4 linked regions of the Homo sapiens genome follow. The protein of the gene in region 1 interacts with the protein of each later gene in a pairwise test. Each region holds a gene or a part of one and is shown in the gene's direction. Other genes may lie near its edges. The genes, in order: DMRT3, ASPG, NBPF19 and MGAT5B.

What was found.
Region 2: the proteins of DMRT3 (region 1) and ASPG interact in binary tests that used the Homo sapiens proteins (3 or more experiments, as listed by UniProt).
Region 3: the proteins of DMRT3 (region 1) and NBPF19 interact in a two-hybrid assay, tested with the Homo sapiens proteins (one large-scale study listed by BioGRID).
Region 4: the proteins of DMRT3 (region 1) and MGAT5B interact in a two-hybrid assay, tested with the Homo sapiens proteins (2 studies listed by BioGRID).

The regions. Positions count from the first base shown.
Region 1 is NC_000009.12:977,609-985,328, forward strand, and holds part of DMRT3 (doublesex- and mab-3-related transcription factor 3), read left to right. Parts: intron 1-7,720. UniProt on the Homo sapiens protein: Probable transcription factor that plays a role in configuring the spinal circuits controlling stride in vertebrates.
Region 2 is NC_000014.9:104,097,146-104,104,865, forward strand, and holds part of ASPG (60 kDa lysophospholipase), read left to right. Parts: intron 1-408; coding exon 409-492; intron 493-1,707; coding exon 1,708-1,834; intron 1,835-6,417; coding exon 6,418-6,530; intron 6,531-7,158; coding exon 7,159-7,341; intron 7,342-7,476; coding exon 7,477-7,590; intron 7,591-7,720. UniProt on the Homo sapiens protein: Exhibits lysophospholipase, transacylase, PAF acetylhydrolase and asparaginase activities.
Region 3 is NC_000001.11:149,470,961-149,479,364, forward strand, and holds the start of NBPF19 (NBPF family member NBPF19), read left to right. Parts: upstream 1-4,084; 5' UTR 4,085-4,835; intron 4,836-4,937; 5' UTR 4,938-4,972; coding exon 4,973-5,147; intron 5,148-6,984; coding exon 6,985-7,087; intron 7,088-7,919; coding exon 7,920-8,134; intron 8,135-8,404.
Region 4 is NC_000017.11:76,873,333-76,881,052, forward strand, and holds part of MGAT5B (alpha-1,6-mannosylglycoprotein 6-beta-N-acetylglucosaminyltransferase B), read left to right. Parts: intron 1-7,720. UniProt on the Homo sapiens protein: Glycosyltransferase that acts on alpha-linked mannose of N-glycans and O-mannosyl glycans.

The DNA.
Region 1 (7,720 bases):
TCCCGGGAGAAGCCGGCTGAGTCTGGACCCAGCGCGAGTGGCACTCGCGCCCGCAGGGAAGGCGCCTCCGGGCAGCCAAACGACGGGACTGTGCGTCAGTATCGCCAGGTGCCTTCCCAGGTTGAAGGGTTCGGAACGTGTCAGATTGAGCAGGGAGACAACGGAGTTGAGACAGGACAAAATTAAAACCCACGTGCGCACACTCACTACGGTGGGGTCGGATTTTCCTGGCTGCAGGCTTTAGAGGTCCTTGCCATTTGGGGGTTGGAATGGGTAGGTAGGTGTAGGGAAGGAGCCAAGGCCAACACTCGGCTGAGTCGAGCTGGCTGTGCTTCTCGGCCGGCCCGGCCCTGCCCAGGGCCCAGGAAAATTTGAGTGAGGACAAGTATCCAACTCTCAGAACCCTGGCCTTTCTAGCTTTGCTCCGTGGCCTCCAGACTCTTGTAACTGGTGAAATAAGTTCCATTTAGCAATGATAGTAAAAGGGTCCGGAAAGGCTTGTGAGCTGATAGCGGGAAAAGAATCTGATGCGCCCAGAATTCACTCCTTTGCAGAACCTCCTAGATCCTTTAACACTGTTCCCCAGGCTGCCCTCAGCTGTCTTCGTGGTTTAAAGGAATACAAAAAATCTGATCCCCCACCACCCATCCGTTTCCATCCAGGCCTCCTGAGCTTGGCAGGCCTGAGTTGAGTCTCTTAGTCTCTCTCTTCCTGGGGAATTTCTAGCTTGCGGTTCTGCCCAGCTCAAGAGCTCTTTTGATGGCTCTTGGAATTCAGTGGATATGTGTTTGGTGTTTCTCCTTAACTGGGGCAAATGTGCAAAGGAACACAGCCCACCTTCTCCCGGAAGGGGGCATGCTGGAATTAGGAGTGGGAAGGTCCAGAGCCCTCCTGTAAGTAGAACTGTGGCAAAACTGGTACCTACACTGACCTGCCAACTCCCTAAAGACGGTACCCCTAGCTTCGGAGAAAGGCTTTCAGGAGCCCAGGACTGCTTTGTCTGGATCCTGTGGAGCTGAGGAAGTGAGGCGGACTCACCTGTTTCATGGTGAGTCAACGGGTGACTGGCAGGTGGAGTTCTGCTGCCCTGTCTTTCCGCCATGCTTTCCAGGCCTGAAGCTCTGAGAACAGCCTGTGTGACAGTAGAGCTGGGAATTTTAAAGCCTGAAGAGAGTTTGCCGAACTTGGATTTTGTGGATATTTAATCCAAGTTAGCATATAAACGTTTCTCAGAAATGATCGCCAGTTGTCTCTCTTTTGTCTGTCTCATCTTTTTATATTTATGGATTTGTCACAGACGAAGAGGAGGGAGGAGAAAAAGGTTTTATTATTTTTCTCCCATAGGTTTGAACAAATAACAAGGAAGAGTTTGGTCTCAGCTCTAGAATTGGATTTGTACCAATATATTTTCTTAATTTTTTTCCATTTCCAGCTTCTCTGGTTCCGTTTCCCCCAGGACTAGGGCAGAGGCCTGAGTTAACATCAGAGGTTAACTCAGCAGCACTCCTGTGATCGGGCATTGGGTTCTGTGGTTTTTATCCAAGGAGATGCCTTTCACATCCTGTGTTCTTCAGAGTATTCTTTGGGATAGCTAAAGTTCATGATTTCTAAAGAGTCACAAAACTAAAAACACAACCCCAGGAGGAGGAGGAGTGAGGGCAGGCAGGAAGGCAGAGTAGGCAGCGGCAGCAGGATACGTGCTTTGGGAGAATAGAAAAAGGAAACGGATCTCAACTGGACAAAGCAGAGCTGTGCTGTTTTACTCCTACTTAGCACTCAGGGATAGCCTGAGCCTTCCGAATTGAAAACAAGTAATTGCAAAGGAGAATAGGATTTATCACAAGGCGAGGTCCAAGTGAGGACTTTGGGGGACCGAGGCATCAGGGACCAAGGGCTCAGTTTCCAGCTGGTCACCCCCACCCCCCCATACCTTGTACATTGATGTACACAACTTTTGTTTTCTTCTTTCACTTGCTGTGACCCCATAATTCCCATTTTTTTAAAAAAAAGCAAATCACCACTCTGATGGGGAGTGGGGAGAAAGGTAGGAAAATAATAGATGATTGTTTAGGAAGACAGGCATACAAGTGGATCCATTCTACACAGTGCTTGTAGAAATAAAGTCTATTTGGGGTTTAAGCTGAAGAAAACTGCTCACTGAGACTGCCTGTTGCTATAGGTATTATACCCTTTTTGCAGTTGTTCTAATAATGTATTTGTGTATAACATTCCATATGTATTTAGAAGCATATCAGAACTACTCCTGAATAAGTGCAGAGAGTAAGCAAAACTAAGTGCAGAGAGTAAGCAGAACTCTATTGGAATGGTAGTTCCACATGTACATTAAGTATACAGACCATCAGAAATCTTTCAATATCTGCTGGCAATGTAGATCTATTACTTTGTGAACTTTGACTTTGAAATGTGGTTAGTCTTTTTGCGGGGCAAAGGACCTCTTTAATACATAAGCTGTGAAGAGAGATTTTTTTTTCTTGTAAACAGAAGCACATGGAGTCTTTCCTCTCCAGAAATCTTTGAGAAAAGCACATGCCTTAAGGAAGAGTATGTTTGCTGTGAATCACTGGAGGAAAACCACCCCGTTGAGGGAGTGACATATTCACATCAAAACTCAGTTTTGTAACTGGAAGAATTTTTTCTCAAATTCTGCTTTAGATTCTTTAAAGGAATGGGGTTATTTTATCTAATGGTGTAGTATGTTGAATATCCCTTTCAATGTGTGGTGTTTTTAAGGAGAATTTTCATATTCTAGTGGTTTTTACTTCTAGTTATGAAGTATTCTTTTTTCTTTTTGAATGTAGATTTCTCCTTCTCTTTGATTACCATCTACGATGGACCTGGAATTAATTATTAGATTTTGATTGAGCTGAACATTTTGATTTAAGCTATGTATAGATATATTAAGCTATATATATCTATTAAAAGCTATATATATAGCTTAAATTTAAATTCTAATTTAAGCTATATATGTGTGTGTATATATATATGTATATATACATACACTATTTAATTCATTTATTCTTCTCCTAAATTCCCTCTATGTTCTTCTCATACTCCTTCTCCCCATGAAAATACAGGAGGCATGAAGATCTTCCAACTGTTAGTGTATCTGAATCAGCAGTTTTAATCAGCCTAGCCAGCCTTTCAGGACGTGGGCTCAAGAGCTGAGGGAAGTTAAGGGTCACTGCCAAGGTGAAAAGCTAAAGTTACATTCTTGTGTTGTGGCTCCCTTCCCTACCCCCAACTTTTCCTCCAGGGGAGTGTCCTCGGACACCTTAGACTGTGGTGCGATGAGAAGAAAGATCTGTGGCTGTAGACTCTTCCTAGGTCTCCATCTGCCATCAAAATGAATATGTACACACATTCTTTTAAATGCTTTTAAAAGGAAAAAGAAATCGAAAACATGGTTAGGAATAAGAGAGAAGGATCAAATGGGAAAGTAGGATCTTCTTTCCTGTTTATTTCTTAGGGGGTGGGGGCGGAGCAAACAAGATAACTATAGGGGGAGAAGTTAGGAGATTTTGGAAAACTGCCTTTATTTTATTTTTTCCTCTTGCCCTGCGCCTCCTAGCATCTTTATGCTTGCCTCTGGGCTTTTCTGCTCCGGCTTGACTGGGTCCCGCAAAGTCCACTTCCTTTTTTTTTAATTTTTTTTTCCCCCAAAGAGAAGCACCTGCAAGTGTAATGGGTGTTACGGAACACTCGTCCAGGCCAGGATGAGAAACCCTCTGACTGTTGGCTAGGAAGAAAAGAAAAGCGGGAAATACTTAAAAACCATTTATGAAGTGTACCTGTGAATTGAAAAACAGGGTCTCATTTTAAGACAGCTTGATTTGAGGGTGAGGGGCTTGACTCAGTTGCATTTTAAAAAACAAAACCCAACCAAATAAAAAGGAATACGCATACAGGCACTAAGGTCTCTTCCAAACCCCACCCCAGGGCTGGCTCTTGGGGCTGGGATGCTGCTGGGGACCGGTCTTCCCAGCTCTTGGCCTGGCCGGTTTGCACGCAGTGCAGTTGCTGTGTGTGTGTTGCGGAGGGTTGCGGCAGCTGGCCCAGGACTGGGACCCTGGCCACAGCGGGTTCAAAGTAGGGGCAAAGATAGGGGGCAGCGGCTCCTTGCGGCCGCAATGGACTGCCGTCTCCTTGCACCAGGGGGTCGGAGCTGCAGCTGAGCCCAGCTTCTCGCCGCCTGCTGGGGACGGCTCTTTCCTTGGTCACTGTCAGGAAGCAGCTCACTAGGCAGCTCAGGAACCGCCCAGAGACAGCCACATCCCTTGCCTTTCCCTTGCCCAGCTCTTGGGCCACCACTCCCTCTCTGCTCTTCCTGAGCTTCACTACCCTCTCCTTCCCAAGGCAGGAGTCCCGAGGTGAGTTGACACCTTCTGCAAAAATCATGCAAACAAAAAATAGGATGCCAATATTGCATGGGACATACTTTCTCTAGAAAGCCTTCTTTGTTTATTTGATGGTCCCACTTAACTGGACATCCTGTTATTTTATCTGGCAACCATAGGCCTAGGCCTTCCTCACCCAGCCCCAGTACCCACGCAGGGCACCCCTTGGCGGTGGGGTCGCCTGTGCTCATCTCCTAGTTCTTTCTCTGCAGAGCCCGAGCTGCCTGGGACTGGCGTCAGGGAGGTGCTGGGGTCCATCCTGTGGATCTGGGACGGTTTGGCAGGAAAAACGAGAGTGTGTTCCACGTCTAGGAACCAGAGTTCTACTGCCATCTGGGAAAGAACCTCTCTCCACCTCCAAATCACTCCTTGGTGTTATAAATCTGGAGGATAGCCGTGCTCTCGACTTACACAACCAACTTTTCTTTTTCCCTGATGGATGAACTCCCGGGTTTAAAAGATTACAGTAATCACAGGAGGACAGTGTGAATCGAATCTGATAGCAATAACTTTCGGAGAAGGTCAGGCTCAAGTGAAATGTTACCAAGCAACAGGCATTTTGTTTGCAAAATACAATCAAAGAGCATTGATGAGAAATTCTTTGCTGCAGCCAGTCAGCACTTTCTGCTAACAGCTTTACAGAGAGAAAAGGAATAAATCTTCATAAATCAAAGTCCCTGGAGGACTCGGAGCCCTTTTCTGGAAATGTTGCACTTCTTCCTGACGGGAAGGAGGACTAAGCCCAGCAAAAAACCATGGGCCTGCCTGCCCTGCCTGCCCGCCTCCTCTTTCTTTCTCTTCCTTTCTTCCTCGCCTCTTGCTTTTTTCCTTTCTTCCCGCCTTTAAACCTGTTGCAGCCCCTTAGCCATTAGCTGCTCAGGTCCTTGGACCTCCTTGTCTAGTCCTGTGTGGCTCTGATGGCTTGTGCACGGGTGCTCATGGCAGAGGTGGAGGATGCAGTGATAGGACAGCTGGTCCTCACAGGTCCACCGCCTTGTGATTGTGTCAGTTACGTCCCACATCGCCTTAGTGAGTCATCCTCTTGCCTGAGCAATGCATACTACTGTTCTCAGAAGGGAAACTAAAATAACTAGGTATGGGGTTTTTTTGCATTTTATTGCATAAACAGCTATAAAAGGCACAATCAAGTACCAAGTAACAATAATAATAATGAAAAACTTAAGAGTCGGCACATCAATTCTTTACAAAATCTCCAATCTCTTGATTACAACAACTAGGCAGACATAAATTTTACAGAGCTGGGATTAGTGTTCCACGTTTTTCCCACTGATTATTACTTTGTTTAGTTCAGTATATATCTCTAGCACCCATAATCTTTATATGTAAGCATTTAAAACAATATTTCCTCCTGTGAAGACACCATGGTCTGCCCAGCTGCTATCCTTGGAATTATTTGCTGTATTTCACTGTGAAATATAACCAACTGCAGCTTACTTGGAATTTTGCAAAAGATTAGTTAGTAAACTGTATGCCTCTCAGTGGTCAAGAGGCAATGCTTTGATCATCTCTGTATGATCTTACCCAGCACAGTACATGAGAGCATAGTAAGGCATTTAGGGGCATTTGTTAAATAGATGGATGAGTTAGACAGGTGCATTTTGGAAGGTACCAAATAAACATGTAGATTTGTAGGTAATTTCCCCTCTGCTTCTTGGAAGGTATTCCCTTCTGAGTCAAGAAAGAGATCAAAACTAATTTTTTACAAAATATGTGAGGTCCACAGTTGCAAACCATACTTCCTTCAGCCCAGTCCTGTCTATAGCAATATTCCCCCAAAATATAGTGTCAAGGAACCACTCTGATTCCTTCATACGTTATTAATTCAGTGTTGTTAATGATTTTTTAAAAAGTAAAGCATGGCTAGTTTTTTTTTTTTTTTTAACTTTTCACAACCCTCCCCAACCCGGCAATCCACCCCAGGAAGAAAAGGAAAGTTTTTAGATCGAGATCATTCCCTGGTGTTCTTTAGATTTTCAACTATTCATTTTTTTAAAATAATTCATCACTTCTAGTGTGAGATGAAGGTAAGAGAAAATGTGAAGCGTTTGTCTACGATTAGAATTCTGATTAGGCAATGGTCTCCTGTAAAAGTCTCATCCTGCCTGGGCTCCCTCCCTTGCCATTGTTGTAAGATTTATGTGCTTTGAAAACTACCCATCAAGGACCTGTTATTTACAGGTGTGTTCCCCACAGCTCAAGTGAACAGATGAGGATATGACAATCTATGTTTCAAAATGCGTGACATGATTTCAAAAGGGATGGGGGAGTCCAGTGACTTTTGAGCTAGGAAATATTCCTCTCTGCTCGAGTTTTTCTGTGTTTTCATTCTGTATGTAAGAACTATTTTGTTTTCGTAGATATAATTGGATAGAATGGATATAACCTATGACATCTAAGTCAGAAAGATTTTTCACATTTTTTTTTTTTTATTTAGACAGTCTAATTCTGTCGCCGCAGCTGGAGTGCAGTGGTGAGATCTGCAGCTCACTGCAAGCTCTGCCTCCCGGGTTCACGCCATTCTCCTGCCTCAGCCTCCTGAGTAGCTGGGACTACAGGCACCTGCCACCATGCTCGGCTATTTTTTTTTGTATTTTTAGTAGAGATGAGGTTTCACCATGTTAGCCAGATGGTCTTGATCTCCTGACCTCGTGATCCACCTGCCTCGGCCTCCCAAAGTGCTGGGATTACAGGTGTGAGCCACCGCGCCCAGCCAGATTTTTCACTTTTATGCATCGTGAGCAGAATGTTTGTTTCTCATATGTGGTAGACTTTCTCAAAGTATTTGAAATAATACATTTTTTTTTTACTAAATTGCATTTTTATGTGAAAAACTCCCCTAAAGAAAGTTACATTTTCAAACTGTAATTTTAGATTGAAAGCACTTTTGTGAGTGTTTATTTTCTCTCTTTAAAGTCTTGTAGCAAAAAAAGAAAAAAAAGTATTGTAGTCATCTTATGGCATATATATTTTGAAGTCGGTAGCATTGTTATCTGTAGAAAAACTTTTCTTTTTAATTGAATATCTACTTCTTTTAAAAACCTCTTTACCCTAGTGCACAGTTTATTTCAGGGATAGCTATAAGTGTTTCTACCCCATGAAATATGAAATGGAAGAGAGAATATTAAGATTTTAAAAATATGTACATGTTTAGCAATAGAAACAGCATATTGTATCACTTTCAGTAATATTTGTCATATTCGATAAAATTGATTTCTTCCCTGTTTAATAGCTTTGACTTTCTATACCCATCTACCGGGGTAAAAATATTATCAGTTGATATACAC
Region 2 (7,720 bases), on another chromosome or scaffold:
TTCTCCAGTATGGGGACCGGCTGGCCCCTGCTGCCAGCACTGGGCTCTTGGACCTGTAGAGGGAGCTGGTGGGTGGGTTGAGGCCCTGGGTGCAGGCTGGCATGGTCTGCAGCCACAGCTGTTGGTGGGTGGGTTGAGGCCCTGGGTGCAGGCTGGCATCGTCTGCAGGGACAGCTGTTGTTGGCGGCCTTGGAGACAGGCTTACTGCCCAGCTCCTCTGAGTGCCCCGTTCCCCCAAGGCACCCATCTCCAGGCTGCCTGCTGCAGTCCAAGCCCGCCTGTCCTTCTCTTTCCCACACCCGCCTGGGGCTCCTGGGCTGGGCCTGGGGGTTTACCTGGAGAGATGAGCCAGACATCCCAGGCTTCTGGGCTTCCCAGGCCTCAGCTACTCCGTGGCCTCTCCCCCAGGTGCCCATCCATGCCCTGTGGAGCGACGGCCGTGAGAACCTGCTGGGGGCACTGCTCATGGCTGGCCAGTATGTGATCCCAGAGGTACCTGCCTGGTGCACGTGGAGGCGGGGCAGGTGGGGTGGGGGCAGGAGCCCAGACAGCAGCCAGGAAACAAAGTCCCCCCAGCCCCTCCCCAGACGCCACTGCCAATAGCTGGGTGCACTGTCTTCTAGATCTTATGTTGTGGATATTTACATTAGAGGTACGTATGGAAGTTCTACGTTAGAGATACGTATGGAGGTTCTGCGTTAGAGATGCATATGGAGGTTCTACGTTAGAGATACGTATGGAGGTTCTGCGTTAGAGATGCGTATGGAGGTTCTGCGTTAGAGATGCGTATGGAGGTTCTGTGTTAGAGATGCGTATGGAGGTTCTGCGTTAGAGATGCGTATGGAGGTTCTGCGTTAGAGATGCGTATGGAGGTTCTGCGTTAGAGATGCGTATGGAGGTTTTGCGTTAGAGATGCGTATGGAGGTTTTGCGTTAGAGATGCGTATGGAGGTTCTGCGTTAGAGATGCGTATGGAGGTTCTCCGTTAGAGATACGTATGGAGGTTCTGCGTTAGAGATACGTATGGAGGTTCTGCGTTAGAGATGCGTATGGAGGTTTTACGTTAGAGATACGTATGGAGGTTTTACATTAGAGATAGGTATGGAAGTTTCTATAAAAACAGGTTGCAGCCAGCAGGGCTCTGAAGGGTGTCACTTTCCCTCCCCCATGTCTTTCCCTGTTTCCTGTGGCGTCCCAGGAAGGAGTGTGCAAAGATCTCCCCCACCCTGGGGCAGTGGCTTTACCCAAGGCTCTTGAGCAGCTTGACTAGAGCCCCCACACGGGCTCCTGAGCAGGGGCCTCAGGGACTCCCATTCACCGTGGGCAGGGGCCTCCAGCAGCTGTGCTCGCTGCACCTTTGGGATGAGTTCCCAGGGCTCTGTAAGAAGCAGGGTTGGGGGCAGTGGGCAGGTGGGAAGGGAAGGAAGTACGGTACCCTCCTGCCACCCAGCCACTTGCACGCCCCAGGCCCTGGGGTCCCCAGGCCCCTGCAGGCTCCGGTTAGCCCACGGGTAGGTGGCAGGGCAGGAAAGGGCCCGAGAGGGGCAGTACCTGCTCCCAGGAAGGTCTCTGCCTGCGGTGGGTGGGGTTACAGTCCCACCTCCCCCTGGGTCTGGGCACCTCATTGATGGCAGGGAGGAAGCTGGAGGGCAGATGGGTCGGGGACAGGGTGGCCGCTGCTCTGAACTCTGTCGCTCCGTTCCCGCAGGTCTGCCTTTTCTTCCAGAATCAGCTGTTTCGGGGCAACCGGGCAACCAAGGTAGACGCTCGGAGGTTCGCAGCTTTCTGCTCCCCGAACCTGCTGCCTCTGGCCACAGTGGGTGCTGACATCACAAGTAAGCCCCGCAGGAGCAGGGCCAGGTGCCTGCCCAGTGCTGGTGCTGGGCGAGGGGCTGCTGCAGGGAGCTCGTGGCTGGGACTCGGCAGAGTTTGAGAGCACCATGCTTGGTTCTGACTTGCCCTGGCTTGGTTCTGCCCTGGGCTGTGGAGAAGCCAGGGCTGCGTGGACAGGGCTGCTGCGTGGCCACAGAGGTGGGGGCCTCCTCAGGTCCCTGCAGGCTCAGAGGCGGGAGGCCTGGAAGAGAGGTTTGGGGCATCTGGCCCTCATGTGTCCTGCCCAACCACTCGCCCCAGGCCTAGGAGGTCCCCAGTGACCACCTGGCTCTGCCACACCTCTGTGTGCCGTAGCCTCGTCCCCAGGAGTTTCAGGGAGTCTTTCTGTCCTCTGGTTCCGGCGGGCAGCCCAGCCATCCTTGTGGGGCTGACTCGAGCGATCCTGTGTCCTGAGGCTTCCCCCTGGGGGGGCCAAGCCCGCCCCCTGGCCCTGGCTGTAGGAGCAGCCTTGGAGCTTGTTCTCAGAGACTGGTGCCCTGCCAGGCCTCACCTGAGACGCAGGGCCACTCCAGTGGCCTGCCCGGAAGTCACTCCCTGGCCTACCGTCGCTCCGTCTGGGGTGTGCTCCTGCTGAGGGAGCCCCTGCTTCCTGGACTCTACCCGGCCCCTGCCTGTTCCAGGTCCACGGCCAGCATGGCCAGTCCTGACCCCACGCCAGCACCCCTCCCTGAGGCAGCGGGAGCATCCCCTCCCTCCTGGGAGATGCATCCTGCCTGCCCTGGCCCCCTGCTGTTTCAAGGCAGCCCCAAACCTGCCCTGTGTCTCATCCTGACTGACTGAGGTGGGGTCCAGCCCCGGGGAGGCTCCAGGGCTTGGCAGCACTGGCCTTCCTTTGGGGGCATTTGACACCTCACCCGGGGCTGGGTGGGGCTGCCTGCCCAGGACCAAAGCAGCTGTTCCTGTCTGGGCGGGTGGGGTGGAGGCGCCCCCTCACCCACACTGGGCTTCTGTCCAGGCCTGGGCCATGGCGGGCTGGTGGGTCAAGCCCACAAGGTCACTGGACGCCTGGGGAGGCCCTTCCTAGGGAATCTCCCGGTGCGGCAGAGGCTCCCCACTCCCCCATTTTAAGGAGGAGCAGACCCTCCTGGAGAAAGGGTTGGGCTATGGGCTGCTGGGGCACAGCTTCCTGGAAGAATCCCCAGACACAGGCAAGGACCCTGGGGAGCTTCAGGGCCTGGCATGAGGGGGCCCTGGGAAGGGTCTGGCAGGGCAGGGGCCTTCCTGGAGCATCTACCAGAAGTCGGGGGACAGGAGGGGCTCTGGGCATGTCTGGCTGTGGGGCCGTCAGCAGAAGCGGGTGGAGGCAGCGTCTTTGGATCTCAAGACAAGGCCTGTGTGTGGGAGTCCGGGCTCGGTGGCTGACTTGCTTGTTGCCCCAGGGCCCCTCAGCAGGACAGGACAGAGGAAACTGCCTGGTTCTACAGGTGAGAAACGGAGGCAGAGAGAGGCAGGCTCCCACAGGGAGGCACCGACTCAAGCCTGTGCGCTGTCTCCTGTCCTGGGCTCACACCCCGTCCCTTCTTCCTGCTGTTCCCTCCTGTCCTGGGCTCACACCCTGTCCCTTCTTCCTGCTGCTCCCTGGAGCACCTTCTAGGGAGTGTGAGGCCCAGAACACATCAGTGTGTCTACTGTGTGTGCAGCACACCGGGTCTCAGGGGCTTGGGCAGGGGCCCACTTGCTCACCGAGGGCCAGGGCAGCCCTCAAGGCTTCTTGGAGGAGGTGGCTTGTGAGCTGGTGCTGGTAGGGTACTGGCTTGCTTGCCCATGCTGGATGCTGGCACTCGGCCCCTCCAGCCCAGGGAGAAGGAGCAGCAAGAGGTGTGGGTGGTGCCCTGCAGGCCCGGCTCCCCCATGGGGCCTGATTCACACCTTATCTGGGGCTCAGGAGTGGAGCTTCTGCTGGTGGGTGGACCCCGCCCCAACAGTGCACAGAGGACCGTGCTCTGGATTCCAGGGACTCCGCCAGCACCGGGTGCTAAGCCCGGGCAGGCCACGAGGCTCAAGACACACCGGCCTCAGGCCCAGGGCCGTGGGGCAGCTCCTGGGCGCAGCACTAAGGCTGGTCTGGGTGGGAGGCTGCCCTGGCCCCAGCCCCCCACCCCTGAGTGTTTCCCACGTGCGTGTGGGTGTGGGAAACTGATGCCGGGCTGCCGGGCCGGTTCTGGCACCCAGTGTTGAGAAACCTCAGGCCTTGCCCAGGGCGTGGCTGCTGGGGCCCCTGGGGAGGGGCACAGGTTGGCAGTGTGCACCCTCAGCCTCTCTGAGCCAGCTGGGGGTAGCAATGCCGGCCTGGGCCCGGGTGCCAGCTGCCAGCACCCTGTCGAGGGCTTGTCCTGGGCTTTTTACCCACTGTCTGGGAAGTGAGGGGCTGGGCTGGTCCGGGAGTCATGGGCGGGCTTGGTGCTCCTGTCCACAGTCGGCTCGGCGCCAAGGGGTGGGGGGATGCGTGGGAGGCTGGAGGAGGCCCTGCTGGCCCTGTCCTTTCCATGTGTCTCAGGAGACCACACTGTCACCCCCAGGCAAATCCTGCACCCTTACCCTTCTGTGCTGAGCCCTGACCCCGGCCCACTCTGCTGGGGCCCTTGGAGCAGAGGAGGGTGGAGAAGGGGATATGGCTGTGGGGTCAGGCCAGGCCTGTCACTCACCAGCCATGGGTCCTTACGCTGGGTCACCCCAAAGCAGAGCCCCAGAGCCCTCCTCTGTGCACTGGGAGAAGCCACCTCCCTCCCAGACGTGACCCAGCCACCCCAGCTGTGCCGCATCCAGCTTTGAGGCCGCAGACTACACCCTTCGGCTCCTGTGCTGAGCTCCCGTATCTGTAGAACAGGGCCATAGCCCCTCTTGGGGGTAAGGGGCTGAGCCTGCAGGCCTCACCTGGCCATGGAGCCACCAGCGCTCCTCTCTGCCCCCGGGTGTGGGGTCACGATTCCCCTGGCCTCTAGCAGGCCTGGGCAGGAAGGACTGGGATCCCAAGGGTGGCATCCACAGACTCTCAGGAGGCGGGAGGTCAGTGCGGGGTGGGTGTGGGCCCTCTTTGTCTCTGTGTAGCCCCCTCTCAGCCATAACTCTTTGCCAGTGGCAGCGGTGCCCCCTCCTTTCCTGTGCTGATGCCTTATCTGCTTGTCCGGCTGAGACACACGCCCTCAGTTAAAGGGCATCTCACGCTGCCATCATGTGGGGCTGACTGATGCTGTGGGCTCTGGTGGGGGTGGAAGACTCACTGCTGGGGGCTCCGCTCCCCCCTCTCTCATCCCCAGCACCCCACATCTCCCCCCTTCAGCTCCACCATGCCAGGAAAGTCCTTTTTATCGCATGCAAGCTGCTCTAGCGGAAGCGGCCGGAGACATGTGGGTGACATCTCCCTGTGGGCAGGAGGAAGAGCCCTGTGCGGGGGTCCTCCTGCCCAGGTTCCTGTCCCAGCACCGTGCCGGGCTCTCCAGGCGCCCAGGCCCTTCCCCACCCCTGGGCCTCGGTTTTCCTGGGCTGGGCTCTCCAGCCTCCAGGGTGTTTACTGCCCTGGGCAGCTCTGACACCTCACAGTGTGGTGGGAGTCCCCAGTGTCCAGCCCTGCTCTGCTGGAGGCTGCCATGAGTGTGGAGAGGGGCAGAGGGAATGGACCTCAGCCTTGGCGCTGGCCTCTGAGGGTTTGGGGGCCGGGCCTGTGGCATCAGCCTCCCACCCCCACCCACATGGAGCGGGAAAGTCGGCAGAACCCTGGGGGCTCAATTGCTGCCAGAGTGGCGGCCTTCAGCTCGAGGACAAGCATGTCCTCTGGGGAGCCCCTCTGCATGGACGGGTTCAAGGGGCACTGACCCCAAATAGCCATCCCTCCCCACTTCACCTGGGGCCTGCACCTCCACCATCACCCACCCTGGGTGTGGGGAGGGGGTGATGGGCACACATTAGGATTTTGGGGTGAACTGGATGGAGGCCTTCTCTCCCCAGAGGTGAGGGGTCCGAAAGTCCATTTGTTCGCTCATTCAACCACTGACCCGGTGGGCAGTGGGCACAGTGGGTGCCTGGCAAGGGGCAGAGGAGGCTGGCTGGTTCGACGATGCTGCCCCATGCCTGTAACCCAGCGCAGTGACTGCTGGTGGCTCCCCAGCTGGGCATGCCTGCCCTCCTCGCCTCTGCGCTCGCCTGACGCCCCCATGCGGCCTGCAAGACACAGCCGGGCCTCCATCTCTGCAGGACCCTCCTGCCCCTCGCCTGGCCAGCGGAGTTTCCCTGGGCTTCACCCTTGAGACTGTGTTGCCCATTGCTCGGCCATCGGTCTCTCGCTGGCCAACGAGTGCCTCCTCCCACAGCCCCGTGCACGCTGCGGAGCCTGGCACAGGCCGGACTGCGCGGAAGCCCGGGAGGATTTGCCTGCGGGAGAGGAGGCAGGGCGAGGGGGCTGAGCCGCGAAGGCTCAGGGCTCTGAAAACAAGGGAGGAGGCGGCCTGTGCAGAGGGCCAGGCACTGGGCTGGGGTCTCGGCTGGCAGGAGGCCTGAAGGCACCACACAGGCCCTTCCCTGTCCTCAGTCAACAGGGAGCTGGTGCGGAAGGTGGACGGGAAGGCTGGGCTGGTGGTGCACAGCAGCATGGAGCAGGACGTGGGCCTGCTGCGCCTCTACCCTGGGATCCCTGCCGCCCTGGTAGGGACCGCCCCGGCCATCCTGCCCCTGCAGCCCTGAGCCCCAGCCCTCTGCAGCTCCCACGGCCCTCAGGCTCCCTGGGGCCCTCACCAGCCAGTGCAGACCCCGCGTGGACCTGAGATGTCTGCAGTGTGGCCCCACCAGCCCCAGGCCCTGTCCCCTGTCCTCCGTCGTGGTGCTTTCCAGCCTCTCGGGGAGTGGGCAGGGTTGGGGCGCGGCTCACAGCCAGAACGGGGTCCTCCATGCTTTTCTAGAGGCAGCGTCCTCCCGCAGATTCCAGCTGGCTGGGAGCCGCCCCTGCTGTGCTGGACAAGGGTGTTTGCTCTGGGGCCTCTGATGGCCTTCTTGGCTCCTCTCCCACCTCTCTGAAGTGTTTCCACGGCGTTCTGCCACACAAAGCCTTCGTCCCTACAGACAGGGCGACCCTTTGGGAGAATGTGGGGGGAGCAGCCCCCTCCAGGTGCCAGCAGCCATGCACGTCTGCCAGGAGCCCCACTGTCCCGGGAGCAGAGCAGGCACCAGCTGCCCCTGGCTTGGGGTCCCTCTCCTTGGGAGGGCATGGGGCGAGTCTCAGTGGTGCTGAGGGCAGAGACCCTCACCATCCAGCCCCCACCCCACCGCCCCACAGGTTCGGGCCTTCTTGCAGCCTCCCCTGAAGGGCGTGGTCATGGAGACCTTCGGTTCAGGGAACGGACCCACCAAGCCCGACCTGCTGCAGGAGCTGCGGGTGGCCACCGAGCGCGGCCTGGTCATCGTCAACTGTACCCACTGCCTCCAGGGGGCTGTGACCACAGACTATGCAGCTGGCATGGTAGTGCCGGGAGATCAGGGCCTAGCGGGGAAGGGGACAGCCTGAGGGCCTGGCAGAGGTGGGCTCTGACCCACCCCTCATGGGCTGGGGGCCGTGGTGAGTCGCCCTTCCTGCCCACACGCCCCCTCCTCACAGGCCATGGCGGGAGCCGGCGTCATCTCAGGCTTCGACATGACATCGGAGGCCGCCCTGGCCAAGCTATCGTATGTGCTGGGCCAGCCAGGGCTGAGCCTGGATGTCAGGAAGGAGGTGCGGGCGCTCTCGGGCTGTGGGCAACCCTCGGTGTGCACAAGCATGTCAGTTGGCTCCCAGGGGCATGTCTGGGGCGATGCCGGAAGAGCCTGGGGGCCGGTCCAGGGTGTGTCCTGTTTGGGAAGGG
Region 3 (8,404 bases), on another chromosome or scaffold:
AGTTTATCCACATCCTCATCAACAGTTGTTATTGTCTGTCTTTTTTATTATATTCATCTGTAATGTGAAGTGTTTATCTCATTGTGGTTTTGATTTACATTTCCCTGATGGTTGATGATTTTCAACATCTTTTCATATACTTATTAGTCATTATGTATCTTCTTTGGAGAATGTCTGTTCAGATCCTTTACCTACTTTATAATTGGTTTATCTTTTTAATATTGAACTGTAATAGTTTTAAAAAAATATATCCTAAATACAAGTCTCTTATCAGATAATATGACTTGCAGATATTTTCTGTCATTCTATGTACTGTCTTTTCACATTCTTGATGATATACTTTTCAGCCCAAATGTTTTTAACTTGATGGAATACAATTTATTTTTTCTTTTGTTGCTTGTGCTTTCAGTCATATTTGTGAAAACTTTGCTTATCCCACATTACAAAGATTTACTACTTCTAAGTGATTTATAATTTTACCACCTACCTTTAGGTCTCTGATCCATTTTGAGTTAATTTTTATGTGCAAGGAGGGAGTCTAACTTGATTCTTTTACATGTGGATATTTAGTTGTCCCAGGACCATTTGTTGAATTAAGTGCCCAGAACAAGTACATCTATATATAGAGAAAGTAGATTAGTGGTTGTCAGAGACTGCAAGAAGTGGGGAATTGGAGAGTGACTGCCCATAGGTACAGGCATGCTTTTTGGCATTATGAAAATATTCTGGAATTAGGTAGTGGTGATGGTTGCAGAACTTTTGGAATATGGTAAAAGACACTGAAATATATGCTTAAAAATGGTGATTTTTGTGATATATGAATTATACTATGGAACTAATAATAACAGTAATAAAGCAAGGTGTCTTTCCACATCTCCATGCCTTGTATTTTCATTAAAAAAAAAAAAAAAAAAAAAAAAGCATTTCAGGGCCAGGCTCAGTGGTTTACTCCTGTAATCCCAGCACTTTTGGAGGCCTAGGTGGGAGGATCGCTTGAGGCCAGAAGTTCAAAACCAGCCTGAGCAACATAGCAAGACCTTGTCTCCATGAAAAATAAAAAATTAGCCAGAAATGGTGATGTGTGCCTAGAGTTCCAACTACTTGGAAAGCTGAGGCAAGAGGATCACTTGAGCCTAGGAGTTCAAGGTTGCAGTGATCTATAATCACCACTGCACTCCAGCCTGGGTGACAGAACAAGACCCTGTCTCAAAAAAAAAAAAAAAAAAAAAAAAAGGCATCTCACTTTAATAGTAAGAGGCCAGAATATGATGCTGGCAGCATGTTGTGAGGAAATGTATTAGATGAAAGAAGTTAAATTCCAGTTCTCCTTTTTTCAGAAATGAGGTATAGGGGAGAGAAACACGTACTTGGAAAGAATTGACCCAGCTGAATTGGAAAATGTGGGAAGGGGATGGGGAAGAGGCTGCTCCACCTGAGATCTGGCTCCAGGACTTACAGCAAGGGGAACTTGGGCAAGTTACAGACTGTCTATGCCTCAGTTTCTTTATCAGCAAAACAGAATCATCCCATAAACTATAAGGTCGATGGTATCAGCGGGTCCCCAAACTGACTGCACATCTGAGTCATGTTAACAAACACATTCCAGGCCCCACCTGAGCCCTCTGAATCAGAATCCCTGTAAGGAGGACGATGAACTTGAATTTGCACTGACTTTCCCAGCTGTTTCTTACTCTGATCAACTTGGGGGTAGGACCCATTGAGCTGCATCACATCATTCCAAAGCCAAAACACAACAGCAGGACAAGAATATTTTCAAGGCAGTCTCTAAAGCAGAGGAGAAACTGTTGAGGGAACCTAGAAGTAAAGGAGATCTGGCTTGCTGGGCTCCATTTGAACTTTGAGTACAACAGAGACATGAGCCCTTTGGGACACATGCCTGAGGTAGTGACAGTCCAGCTTTGGAAGAGTGGAAGCCCTAGTTCCAAATTCAAGCATGCTTTGAGTATAAATTAAGTTTACCTCTTTTTGCACAGCAACATGGCCAATCTTTCCTAAGCTGCTCAGCTTACAAGAAAAGGAATCATACTGCTAAGAATTCAAACTTCAGCAGTCATAGGTAAGTAAGGAAGTCTTATAAACCTATTCTAGCCACCTAACCAGAAACTCGAAATTTAGCAGGTTCTTTCAGTTTCAGGACAGTTGTGTTCACTAGATCAGAGGCATTGAGACATGAAGAACAGACCCTTAAAAAGGGAAAGTGTTCCCTTCAGTTTGAGGACATCACTGGAACATTAGGGAAGTGGGAACACAGCTGCTCACTCTACAGTGTGGGTTGCCTTTGTGTCTGGAATGTGTCTGACGTCCTGATCCCTGTGCACATTTCAGGGAGCCTTGGGAGGACCCCGAATCACTGATGGAATTGGGCAGTGCATGGAGATGGCTCAGCAGGATGAGGGTAAATGCAGGGGCAAGTCCAGGTCATACTGAGAGACAATGAGTGGCGCTGATGAGGACAAAGATAAAATCAAAAGTTTGTGCTTCATCTTCAAAAACTCAAGCTGATAACAAACTTGGCCTGATGAGAAATAATAAGTATTTTTCTATTTACATGAGAATTTAATCTCAAAACAGAAATCAGAAAAATATGAAGTCCAGGGCATAAAACCTAAAACTATTGCTCATATTTATTCTTTCTAAATAGAGCAAAGTGTACAATCTTCTCCATAAGACATACATTGTGGTTATAAAAAGGCAAAAGTCTTAGTGAGAATCATTGGTATTCCATAGAAGAGTGAATTAAACACAGCCAAGGGAAGACCCACGTCTCATACTTCTCTTGTATATTCCAAAGTTCCAGGGAAATTCCAGGTGATAGAGGTTATTTCCCATACTGTTAAAGCAAGGTTTCAGACACTTCTGAATTTTGGTCCCAGTACTCTAGAAGGGCACACCTCTGTCCTGGAAAATAATACAGGAATGAATACTCTTCCCGTGACCCATTCTGGTCATTCTTCCAGCATCACAAAAACCAAAAAATGGAAATATGGCCAAATACGTGATTAGCTGTCCCTCATCTTCAGGTTTCTTATCTGTTACTTATAGATAATAGCATTACCTTAAGGATTATGATGAAGATACAATGTCCAAATATAAACACAGTTTTGAGCAAAATGCCTTGTACGAATTGGTCAATGAATAATTACTAAATATGTGAATATTTACTGGATTGTATGGATCCTATGAATAATTACTGAATAATTATTGTGATTGCTTTTATTGGCAGTGCTGAAAACTCATCCCTTTGTGACCTCAAGTAACCCATGACACTTTGTGAACCTGCAGTTTTTTCATTTAGAAACTTGACAGATTTTCATTCTGACACAGAATGTCAGGTCTCCCAGACCCTAGAAAATACATTGACTTAAAGCCTTTGATACATCTCAAAGCAGTATCCTTACAGTGTCACTGGAAGATGGTGCGGGCTGCAGAGAGGGATGCTTTCAAATGGGATTAACCAGTCCTCCTTCCTTCACTTCCACATGAATGCTGGGCAGCCCAGGGTCAACCCACTGCACCCTCAACTCAGGCAAGTCCAGCAGCCAATCTTAGGAGACCTGGGCTACAGAACAGTCTCTCAAGTTCCAGGCTCACAAAACCTAGGTGGGGATGAAAGCTGAGAAAGCGAAGAGGTGGTTCAGGGGATCACTCTTTCCTACTTGTTCCTCTCACCTCAAACTCACCTTCTACTGCACAGCAACACTGAGGATCGCCAACCAACCCTGACCATAACCTTGATCTTGCCATGTTCTGTTAGTGGAATGCAACCCAAAATCAATGGTGTTAGGTCATCTCAACAAAATATATATCAAACCATATTCCATAAGAACTGCTCGTGGCCCTGTTCTTTTCAGTATATGGGAAAACAAAATGGAAACAACAAAATAGCATCAGGTTTACAAAACTTCCCAAGATAGATGGTCACACATGTTTTCAGGAGACCTCTATATAAATGACTTTGATCACTTGATACCTTGAAAAGAGGTCTTGTGGCACTAGAATGACATCTATAAGTGACAAGTATAAAATGTAGTGCTCAGTGACATTAAAAAACAAATCAACCCACATAGAGGAAGAGCTTTGGACGTAGGGATGTCAAACTGGTCTAGAATGTAATGAAAACCCAAGAAGGTGCCCCAGTAAGAAAGAGGAAATCAATCTAACAATGGGATGCAGCAGCAAGAATACTGAGACAGGAAAGAAAATATTTTAAAAAAATGAATTATTCATTCACTTTCTAGTGGATACAGAAAAAACTGCAGAAGACCCAGAGGATATCAGGGCAGGCTAAAAGTTTGATATCTTACACCTGTGGAAAAGCCTTAAGCTCTGTTTTAACTGAGAGCAGGTGGGGTGACTTCATGACTACCATTAAGAAAATATAACCTGTTGGGAAACTGTTTCTGCCTTGATGATGTTGTACAGACAAGAGATAAACAGTGAGGAATATGCTTAGATGTATTGGGAAAGACATGGGTCTGTGGCATTGTCACAAGGGTACACGAATACTGAGAGTGAATGCTGAAGGAATGATCCCCATTGGTGGTGACCCTCAGGTGAAAGTAGGGTGCCTGTGTTTCAGCAAAGCCTGGGCAATTGGAATGCAGAGCTCCTAAGATTCCATGACACCCCCACCTTCTAATTCTGTTATTGCAACTGCAGACGGTTACCTGGCACGCTGGCCACATTCTGCCTCACTCTTATCAGAGTCTGAGCTACTGGCAGTGCTTTCAGCTCTGAGTTGAGGCACCTCGAACCTTGTTTTTGTGGTGAAGGATCCTAAAGTGCTGTGGGGAGTGATCACATTTTTCACAACAGTAAGTTAAGAATTTCAGTTACTGACATCCCTCAGTCCTGATTAAACCGATTTGATTTCACCAGTTTTTAACCCATCATATGTTTGGGTTTCTTCTCCCCAGTCCCTGACTCCACCTCTTCTGCCACAAACGTCAGCATGGTGGTATCAGCCGGCCCTTGGTCCAGTGAGAAGGCAGAGATGAACATTCTAGAAATCAACGAGACATTGCGCCCCCAGCTGGCAGAGAAGAAACAGCAGTTCAGAAACCTCAAAGAGAAATGTTTTCTAACTCAACTGGCCGGCTTCCTGGCCAACCGACAGAAGAAATACAGTAAGATCTATAGGCTCACCATCATGAAAGTGATGAATGATATCCTGTCTTCTCTCTGAGACACTAAATGCTCTCTCCATCAAAAATAATTTCATCCTTCCTGTACTTCTAGGAAAACAGAAATGGGTATTTTAACATTTTGTTAAAGTTGGAAGACAGAGGTGCCAAAGTATTTAGCAACTTTCCATGTTTGCAATCAGATGGGGGTGGAACTAGAGTTAAACTCACAGTTATTGATTTCTAACACAGGCACAGAATGACCTGTTTTCTCCAAGGGGCTCAATCATGTTTTTAAGAATCCTCTCTGTACCATATAAGATCCTGCAGACAAATAACATCTAGTCTGTTGTTCTAAATGTCTAGGACTAGTGAACTTTTATTCAGTTCAAGTTTCTGTTGAGGCCCAACAGGCAAAGCTCTGTTCTAGTGACTCTGAGGGGAACTTGGTGATAGTAGCCAGTACCTGCTCTGAGGGGCTTCAAGGGGAGTCTGCTCCTAATAGAACCTGTGCTATCTATAAGTGACAGCATCAAGAGCAGGGAGTAGGGGCCGTGCAACGTGGCTCACTCCTATAATCTCAGCACTTTGGGAGGCTGAGGCGGGCAGAGCACGAGGTCAGCAGTTTGAGACTAGCCTGGGCAACATGGAGAAACCCCATCTCCACTAAAAATACAAAAAGTAGATGGGCATCGTGGCGGGCAACTGTAATCACCACTAATCGGGAGGCTGAGGCAGAAGAATCCTTTGAACCCAGCAGGCAGATGTTGCAGTGAGCCAAGATTGCACTATTGCACTCCAGCATGGGTGACGGGGCAAGACTCGTCAAAAAACAAACAAACAAAAAGATAAATAAATCAAAAATAAAAATAAAAAGCAGAGAGTACCTTGGTGAGAGTGAAGTCCTGCTTCCTGGTGCACAGGCTCTTGTTCCTAAAGAGGAAAGATCACACCGGAGAATGTGTGGAAGCAGCAGTGCAGTGTGCAAAGCAGGGACCCTCAGCCTGTCTCCTGGGCTCCATCCAAGTTGCTTGTCTTGTCTGTCCCTCAGTTTCCTCATCTGTTCAGAGGGTACTACAATAATACCTACCTCTGTAAATTGCTGCAATGAATTACATGAGGTATTTCCTGTCAATCTCCTTGAACATTAATTGGCACAGTGGAAACACTATCTATTAGTTCTTCATTCTGATGTTTCTAAATTAACACAAACTAATGCTGTTTCTAAATTAACACAACTAATCTAAATCTTAATGCTGCCTCTCATACTAATAAAGTATTTGGGCATATTTCCTTCATGGCCTTATTGTCTTATATCTCACACTTTATGCTTCAGATATGATTCTTAAAACCATATCTGAATATTGATTTAAAAATGAAATATTTTTAAAGTCCTTGACATATTTGTCCTTGAAATACCCAGTAAAAGGGAAACCATCAGTCCCATAGTCCTAGGGGCCTTCCCGACTGTACAAGAAATCACTACTTCATGCCCCAGTGCAGTGTTTTAGAGGAGAGGCTGCAAGACTTGGGAAAGTGGCCCCGCATTCAGAGTCAGACCTCAGGGGCTGTGAGTTCTGACTCCACTTCGTTGTGGTTGAATCATCTTGTCAACTTCCTTGATGCGCCCTTGAGTTTCTCTTTCTTCGTCTTTAAATTTTGGAGGATCAGATGCCAGAAAGTCAGGAGACTGAAGAATAAAGATGTGGAAATCCCTGTCTAGACCCTGGTACTGGGGAGAGTTTTGTCCTTGGGATGGACCTGGCTCCTGCCCTGTAGGCAGTGACCACAGCAGCATGTCCAGCCTTCCACTGAGGCAGGCGTGTCTGTCTTTTCTCAGAGTATGAAGAGTGTAAAGACCTCATAAAATTTATGCTGAGGAATGAGCGACAGTTCAAGGAGGAGAAGCTTGCAGAGCAGCTGAAGCAAGCTGAGGAGCTCAGGTGAGGGGACCCCGTGGGGGGAGGGCAGGCGGGTAGGTGTGTAGATCTCTGAAGTACAGCAGCTCGGCGGGGAGAAATAAGAACGAAGCTGGGCCAGGGGAAGGGCAGAAATTGCCATGACAGGCTCATGACACACAAATATTTATCAGTGAACAAGGATAATAATAAGTTCTGTGTTGCAGTTGTTTCTTAGAGCCTTGTTTTCTCTTTTTCAAACAAGTAATTGTTGAGGTGAAATTTACATAACACAAAATTCACCAAAGGAGTGGGAACCACCCAGCAGCATTCAGTATAATCAAAATGGTGTGCTATCACCACCCCACTTACCCTTAGTGAGAATCACCTCCTGACTGACTGCGTCTTCTCATTCTTTCACTCAATCAATGTTGCCTTCTTGACCCTGTCCTTCTTTTCTTCTTTCATCTTTTCAATTCGCCCCATCTGCACCTGGCCTCATTTCTGTACATGGCTTTGTATTTAGTGGCCGCAAGATGCACTATGTGTATTTTCACATGGAAATGTCCATGGCCAGAGTGAGGAACTGAAAGGATGTCTTTTTGAAACGGAATTAGGAAGACACCTACTTTTGTTTACAGAAGAGAAAGATGAATGGAACATCATCGAGGATCTTGCAGGAGCCCTCTCTGATAGAGGGAAAGCCTGTAGACCATTTTCTATTCTTCCTCTTGGCCACAGTCATTCCTTTCAACATGTGCTGACCTTCTGCTTGGAGGTCTCCTTGAGGACATTGTCTCAGAAGTCTCTGTTGCAATATTTGAACGGATCACTCAACCCTTTCTACTCTTAAATTTTCTCTACCGTCTCACCTTAGGCAATATAAAGTCCTGTTTCACTCTCAGGAACGAGAGCTGACCCAGTTAAGGGAGAAGTTACGGGAAGGGAGAGATGCCTCCCGCTCATTGAATGAGCATCTCCAGGCCCTCCTCACTCCGGATGAGCCGGACAAGTCCCAGGGGCAGGACCTCCAAGAACAGCTGGCTGAGGGGTGTAGACTGGCACAGCACCTTGTCCAAAAGCTCAGCCCAGGTAAGGTGGCCATAGGCCCTGATGACCCAAAACCCCAGGCTTATGAGAGGCTCCAGACCTCCATACTTTCACAATGACAGTTATATCAGTGGGGTTTTTTTCTACTACACCTATGTGGCCATGACATGATCAGGACTTCCTGGGTAAGAACAGAGATGGGAAACCCATGGGTTTGGAGGTCACAGTATTGCAAGTGTCCCTCCTTCCTTGATGGAAGGTGGTCTTTGGAGCAAGAGGCAGCATCTATCTAGTTTTAAAGGACAGGAAGGA
Region 4 (7,720 bases), on another chromosome or scaffold:
GTGGGAACGGGCCTGGCCATGGGCTTAAATGTCTTATCTCTGAGCTCTTGGGACACAGCTCCCTCCCAGGCCCCATCACTCCTTGCCCACACGATATTTGCAAGGCAGTGGAATGGAGATCAGAGCATGGGCTTTGGGCGTCTGGTGGGTCTGGGCTTGCATCCTTGTCATCACCTACCAGCTGTGTGCCTTTGGCTGAGTCACCTGGCTTCCCTACAGAGAAGGACAGCAGTGACCTTCTGCAGAGGTTGGATTGAAGGGGCTCACACGTGGACATTACCCAGCATGGTTGGTGCCACATGGCACAAGAGTGACCAGCTGGGAGCCCTCCTCCTGAAGCTGGGCCCAGCCCCACCTCATCTCACCTAAGGAGGGGTGGGGGTCAGAACTGAGCCCTGCTCACTGTATCATGGGGGTTCTTTTGGTCACTGGTCAAAAGGAGGGACATGGGGTAGTGGGGAAACTGAGGCAAGTAGGTTTCTGGAACTGTTCGAGGGTTGGCTCTGTGAGATTCCCCTGCCCCTCTGGGGAAGTCTCTCCTTGAAGTCCACCTTCTTGAACTTGCAGGGCTTGGCTTTCTGGCTCCCCTGTTCTGAGTGATGAATATTGTAGACATCCCAAGTTAAATAGGTTGTCATCTGGGTGGGTGCTGAGGGGCTCTTATTATGCCATCTGTCATCTCATCATTAGATTCATTCCTCTGGTTTCACATGCACTTCTTTAAACTTGCAAAAGCCCTCAGAAGGAATCTCACGCTTATTAGTCATTCAAGCCTGAGTGTAAGTTAATTTATCCCGTCTCTGACTTGCAGAGATTCCTCAATCTCTGAGCCTCCAAATTTTCCTCTGGTAAATGGGGATGGTAATACCCACTTCCCAGGCTCGTTGCGAGGCTGTGCAAAGATAAAGCAAGGGAAGGGGCCTCAGCAGCATCTGTCAAACGGCGAGCACTCCATCAATACTTAATGGATGTGTCGAGTCTGAAATGGGGGCACTGCAGCAAAGCGTGTTTATGAAAGAGGACCAAGGAGGTGCTGGAGTGTCTGTGTGGGAGAGGCTGAGGATTGAGGTGGGTGGGGATGGGAGGGAGCAGTCGTGAAGGTGAACCGGAAGGGTGGCTTGGGGAAGGGCTGGTGGGAAAAGTGGTGCATGGGAAGATGGGGTGTAGACAGAGATTCATAAACTACCTGGCTGCCACCCCTGGAAAGGAGGTGTGCCTATCTGGGTGGGCTGCTACAGAGGCCTTGAGGAAGTTGAACCTCCAGAAAGGTCAGGGGTCTAAGAGGTGGGAATTAGGGATGGGGGAGAGGAGGGGTTTTTGGCCGGGCTCTGGTTTTTATGCCTATCTCCCTAAGGGGGTTAGAGAGTCAAGGTAACTCACCTACCCCATGGCTCTTGCCCCATCTGGGCAGGATCAGACTCAGTGCCCCAGAGTGCAAGGGGTGTAGGAGCCCTGCTGTGCTCGGTGCTATGCAGTTTTGCCTGGGTATGGGGGTGGGGGTCCAACCCCAGCTGCAGGTCTGGGTCTAAAGATGGATGGAACCACATAGGAGAGCACTTGCCCAAGGTCATACAATTGGACTAGAGGTGTGTGTGCATTCGTGTGTACATGTGCATGTGTGTGCATGTGTGTGTGCGTGTACGTGGTCTTAAACTTTTTAATGGGGTATCATATACACAAATGAACAATCCATGCAACTAACAACCCAGAGCAAGGACCAGAACGTGATCAGTCCCCAAGTGTCCCCATGCCACTTCACAGTCATTACTCACCCAAGGATAGTCACGACTTGACTTCTGATCACATAGAAGAGTTCTGCCTGTTTTTTGGACTTTGTGAGCATGGAATCGTTTCAGGAGTTGATATGGTTTGGCTGTATCCCCACCCAAATCTCATCTTGAATCGTAGTTCCCATAATCTCCACCTCTTGTGGGATAGACCCTGTGGGAGGTAATTGATTCATGGGGGTGGTTTACCTTGGTGCTGTTCTTGTGATGGTCAGTGAGTTCCCACAAGATCTGATGGTTTTATAAGGGGCTTTTTCCCTTTTGCTCGGTACTTCCCCTTCCTGCTGCCATGTGAAGAAGGACATGTTTGCTTCCCCTTCCACCATGATTGTAAGTTTCCTGAGGCCTCCCCAGCCATGCTGGACTCTGAGTCAATTCAACCTTTTTCATCTATAAATTACCCAGTCTCAGGTATGTCTTTAGTAGCAACGTTGAGAATGAACTAATAGAGGAGTAGTCTTTTGTGTGTGTCTTTTCTCTCAGTAGTACATGTGTGAGACTCACTATCTTGTATGCGGTTGTAGTCACTTGCACTTTTTTTTTTTTTTTTTTTTTTTTTGCTGTGTAGCCTTCCATTGTGTGAGTACACCACCATATTTTTATCCATCCGACCATTGGTGGGCATTTGGTCGTTTCCAGTTTTGGGCTTTTGCGAACAGTGCTGCTATGAATATTTCAGTGCACGTCTTTTGGTAAACATACGTAGGCATTTCTGTTGGGTATACCTAGGAGTGGAGATTCTACGTGTTGTAACATTAGTTCTCAGACCAAGTTTATCCAAGCCAGTCTTTTCACATTTCCCAGGCCTCAGAAGCTGAGTGCCTGGAATACAGAACTGAAGTCCGGGAGAAGGAGGAGACAGACAAGAAAAGGGCCGCTGAGAACCCAGGAGAGCTGACCCTGATTCACTTTAGATCCCGACTCGCATTGTCCTCCATGATTTCTTTCATACCCTTGGATCAAGCTAATCTGCTTGGGCAGACCCAAGGCAGGGACTCAGGCCGGGAAAGCAGTGTGCAATGTGGGTTTAACATCCTGATCCTGCAAGAGAAGCCCCTCAAACTACATCCCCACGCAGTGCCTGGGGCAGCCCTGCAGAAAACCTAGGAGGTACCAGCATTTCCACTTAGGAGATGCCTGAGGGAAGGATTAGGGCTTCACGGGGAGGTGCTTGGCAAATTGCTTGGCTGAATCAGGCCTGGGGAGGGATCTTGGAAGTCCTGGGCCAAGGTTGGATTGTTGGATAATGCACGTTTTGTTACCCAAAAGAAATCTGCGGAGTCTAGACAACCCCAGAGCAGAATCAGGAGAAGGAAACCCTCTAAGGCCCTGCTATTTAGAAAAAAAAAAAAAAAATTGCATTGGTCAACAAAACAATCTGTGTACAAATGGGAAAAACAATCTCTCCTCCCCTGTCAAACCGGTGACAGAAGTGGGGTCCCACATGGACTGTGGCTGCGAAGGGAGAGGGAGGAGAAGGCTTTTCTCGAAAAGAAGAGGAGGGCGTCATTCAGCCTCTTGTGGACTGTGGTCTATGTGTGGGGCCTCCAAATTCTCCTCTGTGCCTGTTTATACTTCATGATAAACTGCGTACTTTGGGGATGAAATGTGACTGACATCTCATTCTGTATTCTGCACACTCATCTTAAAGATTCAAGAGAGGAGGCTGCATGGGGAATCATGACCCGGAGGAGATCTGACTTCTTTCCCTCTTGCTGCATTTGGGCTGGGCCTGGGCTCTGGGGAGGGCTTTCCGGCATTGCCCCCTCCCAGGCAGCTCTGCCCCACTTCCCACCCCAGGTCCTCCTCCTGTTTCCTGCCCTTCCAGCCCTTCTCGCCTAGGCCTCCTTCCCCATGTGGCTGCAGATAGTGCTGTGAGGCTGTTTCCTGCCCTCTGACTTGTCTTGAAGAAGCAGTGGTAGGAGGCTGGGTGTGGTGGCTCACGCCTGTAATCCCAACACTTTGGGAGGCTGAGGCAGGTGGATCACCTGAGGTCAGGAGTTCGAGACCAGCCTGGCCAGCGTGGTGAAACCCCATCTCTACTAAAAATACAAAAATTAGCAGGGTGTGGTGGCACGTGCTGTCATCTCAGCTCCTCGGGAGGCTGAGGCAGGAGAATTGCTTGAACCAGGGAGGAGGAGGTTGCAGTGAACTGAGATTGCGCCACTGCACTCCAGCCTGGGTGACAGAGCAAGACTCTGTCTCGGCTTAAAAAAAAAAAAAAAAAAAAAAGTAGTGGTAGGAGGCTATCTTTTGGGAGGGGTCTGTAGGCTGAAGGTCCATGGCACAGCTGCATGTGTCTACTGGGCCCTGCCAGACCTCCCAGGCCTCCACCAGGGATTGAACCTGGGGAAGGCTACCTGGCTCTGTGGATGGCTCTGGCTCTGGCTCTGGCCCTTGGTACTAAGGGGCCCTGGGGCTCTTCTCTCAGGCTTGATGGATGGGGGACCGGGGCCCGGAGGTCTGAGGAAGAGCCTGGTGTGGCCTCCCACGGCCTGTCCTTGTCTTCTCTGCTGCCCGGAGCCCAGAGCTCCCGTGGCCTCAGCTGGTTTCTGCGGTGAGCGAGTACAGAGAGATAAATGTGCGCATTTCTCCAGCTGCACGAACACCCAGTCACAGTTCCCTTCTCAGTGCCAGGGAGGTCTCTGCTTTCTGGAGAGATGGGGGCTCATTCAATTTCCAATGGTAAAGGGTGGGGATGGGGACAAGAAAAGGGGGACGAAGGAGGATGAGAGAGACAGAGAGAGACGAAGAGCGTCTGGGGAGGAGACGGGGCCTCGGTGGGTAATAAACACATCCCGTCTGTAAATGAGAGGATCTATTTGTATCTCCCAGCGTCCCAGCTTTCCTTATTTATATGGAAATATGGAGGGAACGTGTGCCTGTTCTGAGTTGTATCACTGGGGCCTCACATTAGATATATTTCAATTTAGCTGATGCCAAGAGTGGTGAAGTGACTCTGGGGAAGCGATGTCAGCTTGCTCTGCTGACAGTCCCGGGGCCAGTGGTGGCTTTTAGGGGAGTGGGTCACTGGGGGAGAGTCGGCCTGACCTGCTTCCCTCCTGGGTACCCACCCCCTGCCTAGTCTTTGGGCATTTCCAGAGCACAAAATGTGCCTGGTACCCCGAGGGCTCATTGGGAAGGGGTAGGGGCTGTCTCCCCAGGTCTCAGGGGTTTCTGGAGTTCCATGCCATCTGCAGAAGATGGGAGCAGCTCCTGAGCCCCTGGCACGGGGGGACTTGGTCCAGTCTGATGGGGTGGGGCTTGAAGAACTACAGAAGGGGCATCTGGTTCCGCAGGCATGGTCATCGTGAAACCCAGGCTGCAATGACCCATGCCTCTGTATGTCCTCAGGGTTTTTGTTTGTTTGTTTGAGAGAGGGTCTCGCTCTGTTGCCCAGGCTGGAGTGCAGTGGTGCAATCGTGGCTCACTGCAGCCTCAATCTCATGGGCTCCAGCAATCCTCCCACCTCAGCCCTGAAAGTAGCTGGGATTACAGGCACATGCCACCATGCCCAGCTAATTTTTGTATTTTTTATTGAAAAGGGGTTTTGCCATGTTGCCCAGGCTGGTCTTGAACTCCCGAGCTCAACCAATCCATCCACCTTGGCCTCCCCAAGTGCTGAGATTATGGGCATGAGCCACTGCACCTGGCCTGCTGCCAGTTTTTATAGGAGCGTTTCTTTCTTTTCCCATTTCTCTAATCTCCGGAGGCAATTAGGGGAAGACACAGAAACAGAAGTCAGGGCGATAGAGACTCAGAGCTCAATGAGCCCAGCCCCCTCATTTTACATGAGGGTAAATTGAGGCCAAGAGAAGGACGGTGACCTGCTCACCTGTCTGGTCCGCAGCAGAGCGGGCCTGGAGTCCAGGCTTCTGCCCCATCCCCCTTGACTGGGCCCATGCCACCATGCTGCTGCTGCAGCCTCCACTTTGTTGACTTTCAGGGGCCTCTGCAGCTCTAGGCCAGCCCTCATAGTTTTTGGCCCATCATCTGTTTTTCAGCCTGCTCAATGGGACTGGGAGCGTGGGGTGTGGGTAGGGAGCTGTGACCGTGAGGTTTCTGGGAGGGGGCTCAGGCGATAGGCAGGGGCAGAGGAAGCTTGGGGTGGGCTTGGAGAGTGGGACCAGTAGTGCAGCAGGCAGGGTGCCAGGCCTAAGGCGCTCCAGGGAACACAGCGTCACCCCAAAAGCCACGCTGTGGGCTCAGCACCACTGGGGTGCTGCGTCTGCAGGAACGAGCTGCTGACCAGGCTCTGTGGTCAGTCAGGCCTGAGTGCTCTGGCCACGGCACCGCTATGGTGTCCCAGCTGTGAGACACCTTATGGGATGAAACATTCCTTTTTTCATCTCAGTCCTTTGGGGAAGGGACTACTCCAGCCCGAGCTATGAGCGACAGCCCACCAGGGCTGCCCAGTGAGGCCACGCAGGCTGTGCGCTGCACGACTCCACGACAGACACCCTTTAGGCGGCCACAATACCAGTGGTGTCCTGTGGAGTTGTAGAAAGCAGTGGCCAGGCAGGTCATCTGATGTCCTCCAGTTTTTTTAGCTGAAATGATGGAAATCTCTTCATCTACTCTGTGCTACAAGCACTGGTTGCAAGCTCGGTATTGAATTTGGATGATGGGCTTGGGCAGACATCTCTGAAACGAGAGTGATCTGAAAAAGTAAACCGTTGCCCCCGCCTCTGGGAAGCTGAAAGAGAGAGGGAGCTATCTATATCCTGTTTTCTCCCACTCCTTTGGAGAAGGACTACTCCAGCCCAAGTTATGAGCGATGGCTCACCAGGGCTGCCCAGATTAACCGATTGAGTGTGTGAGTGCGTGGGGAGGGCCTGAGAGGCTGGAGAGACCTGAGTTAGTGTCATCTAACGCTAGTATGAAATTTCCCGGTCCCAGCTGAGTTTTTGAAAATCCACTCTGTTTTCCGTAGAGGGACTTGTGGGGAGGTCCTTTGCTGCTTCAGCTCTTGGGGTGGGGAGGAAATATGCCCATTTTCTCCAATACCCGACCCCCTCCGTGAGCCTTCCTGGGCATCTCTGCCTCTCTCTCCTCCTTTTCTTCTGCCCGCCACATCCCCCCTGCTCCCATTCATGCCTGTTCTTCAGAGCCAGGAGCCCTGTGTCTTTAAGGAAATCGCAGCTTCTCCTGTTTTGCAGCCCTAGCCTGGCCGGCATTTCCAAGGTGTGTGAGTGGTCCCGCCCCAGCTCCTGTGGCCTCCCTTCTGACCTCAGGCGGGTTCACCTGGCAGGGGAGCCCAGCCAGGGGGTGACTTATATCAGGGTGGGAACGTGGCAGCAGTGGCTGGGCCAGCCAGAGCCAGGGAAGAAGGGCAGAACCAAAGCAGAGGTGTGAGAGCAGCCCCGGTGATGCAGAAGCCGCTGGCTGCCCCTGCTCCGCCCACTGCCTCTAGCTCCCTCTCTCCTTTCCCTGTTCTGCCTCTTCTCAGTGGCCTCTCTCGTCACCTTCCTGGTCCTGTGGTCTGCAGACGGGGCCTGTTATTCTTGCCTTGAGACGGGGATGCTGAAGCTCAGAGCCATTCAATGACTGCCCTGGTCACACAGGGGTCAGCGGGCAGAGGCCCCAGTCCCCTTGCCCCTCCCCAGGTGGGGAGACTGCAGTGTGTTCTACATGGTCTCAGGGCTCCCCAGCAGGGCTAAGGTTGGGCGCCCGGGTGGTAATATTCTCGGCAGTGCAGCTTTCCACAGCTTCCCCGTCTCTCTTCCTCACTCTCCTGCTGGGGTTTCCATTAGCTCCCGGTTAAACTACTCACCCTCAAACCCTTGTCCCAGGCTCTGCTTCTGGGGAGCCCAACCCACGGCATCCTCCATTGGGCCCCTGGACTGGCAGCCTGGGAGCATCGAAGGTTCATGTTCCCAGGTGACTTGGCTCGTTTTGGGGGAGTGATTTCAAGCCTGATCCATAGGGGTTTG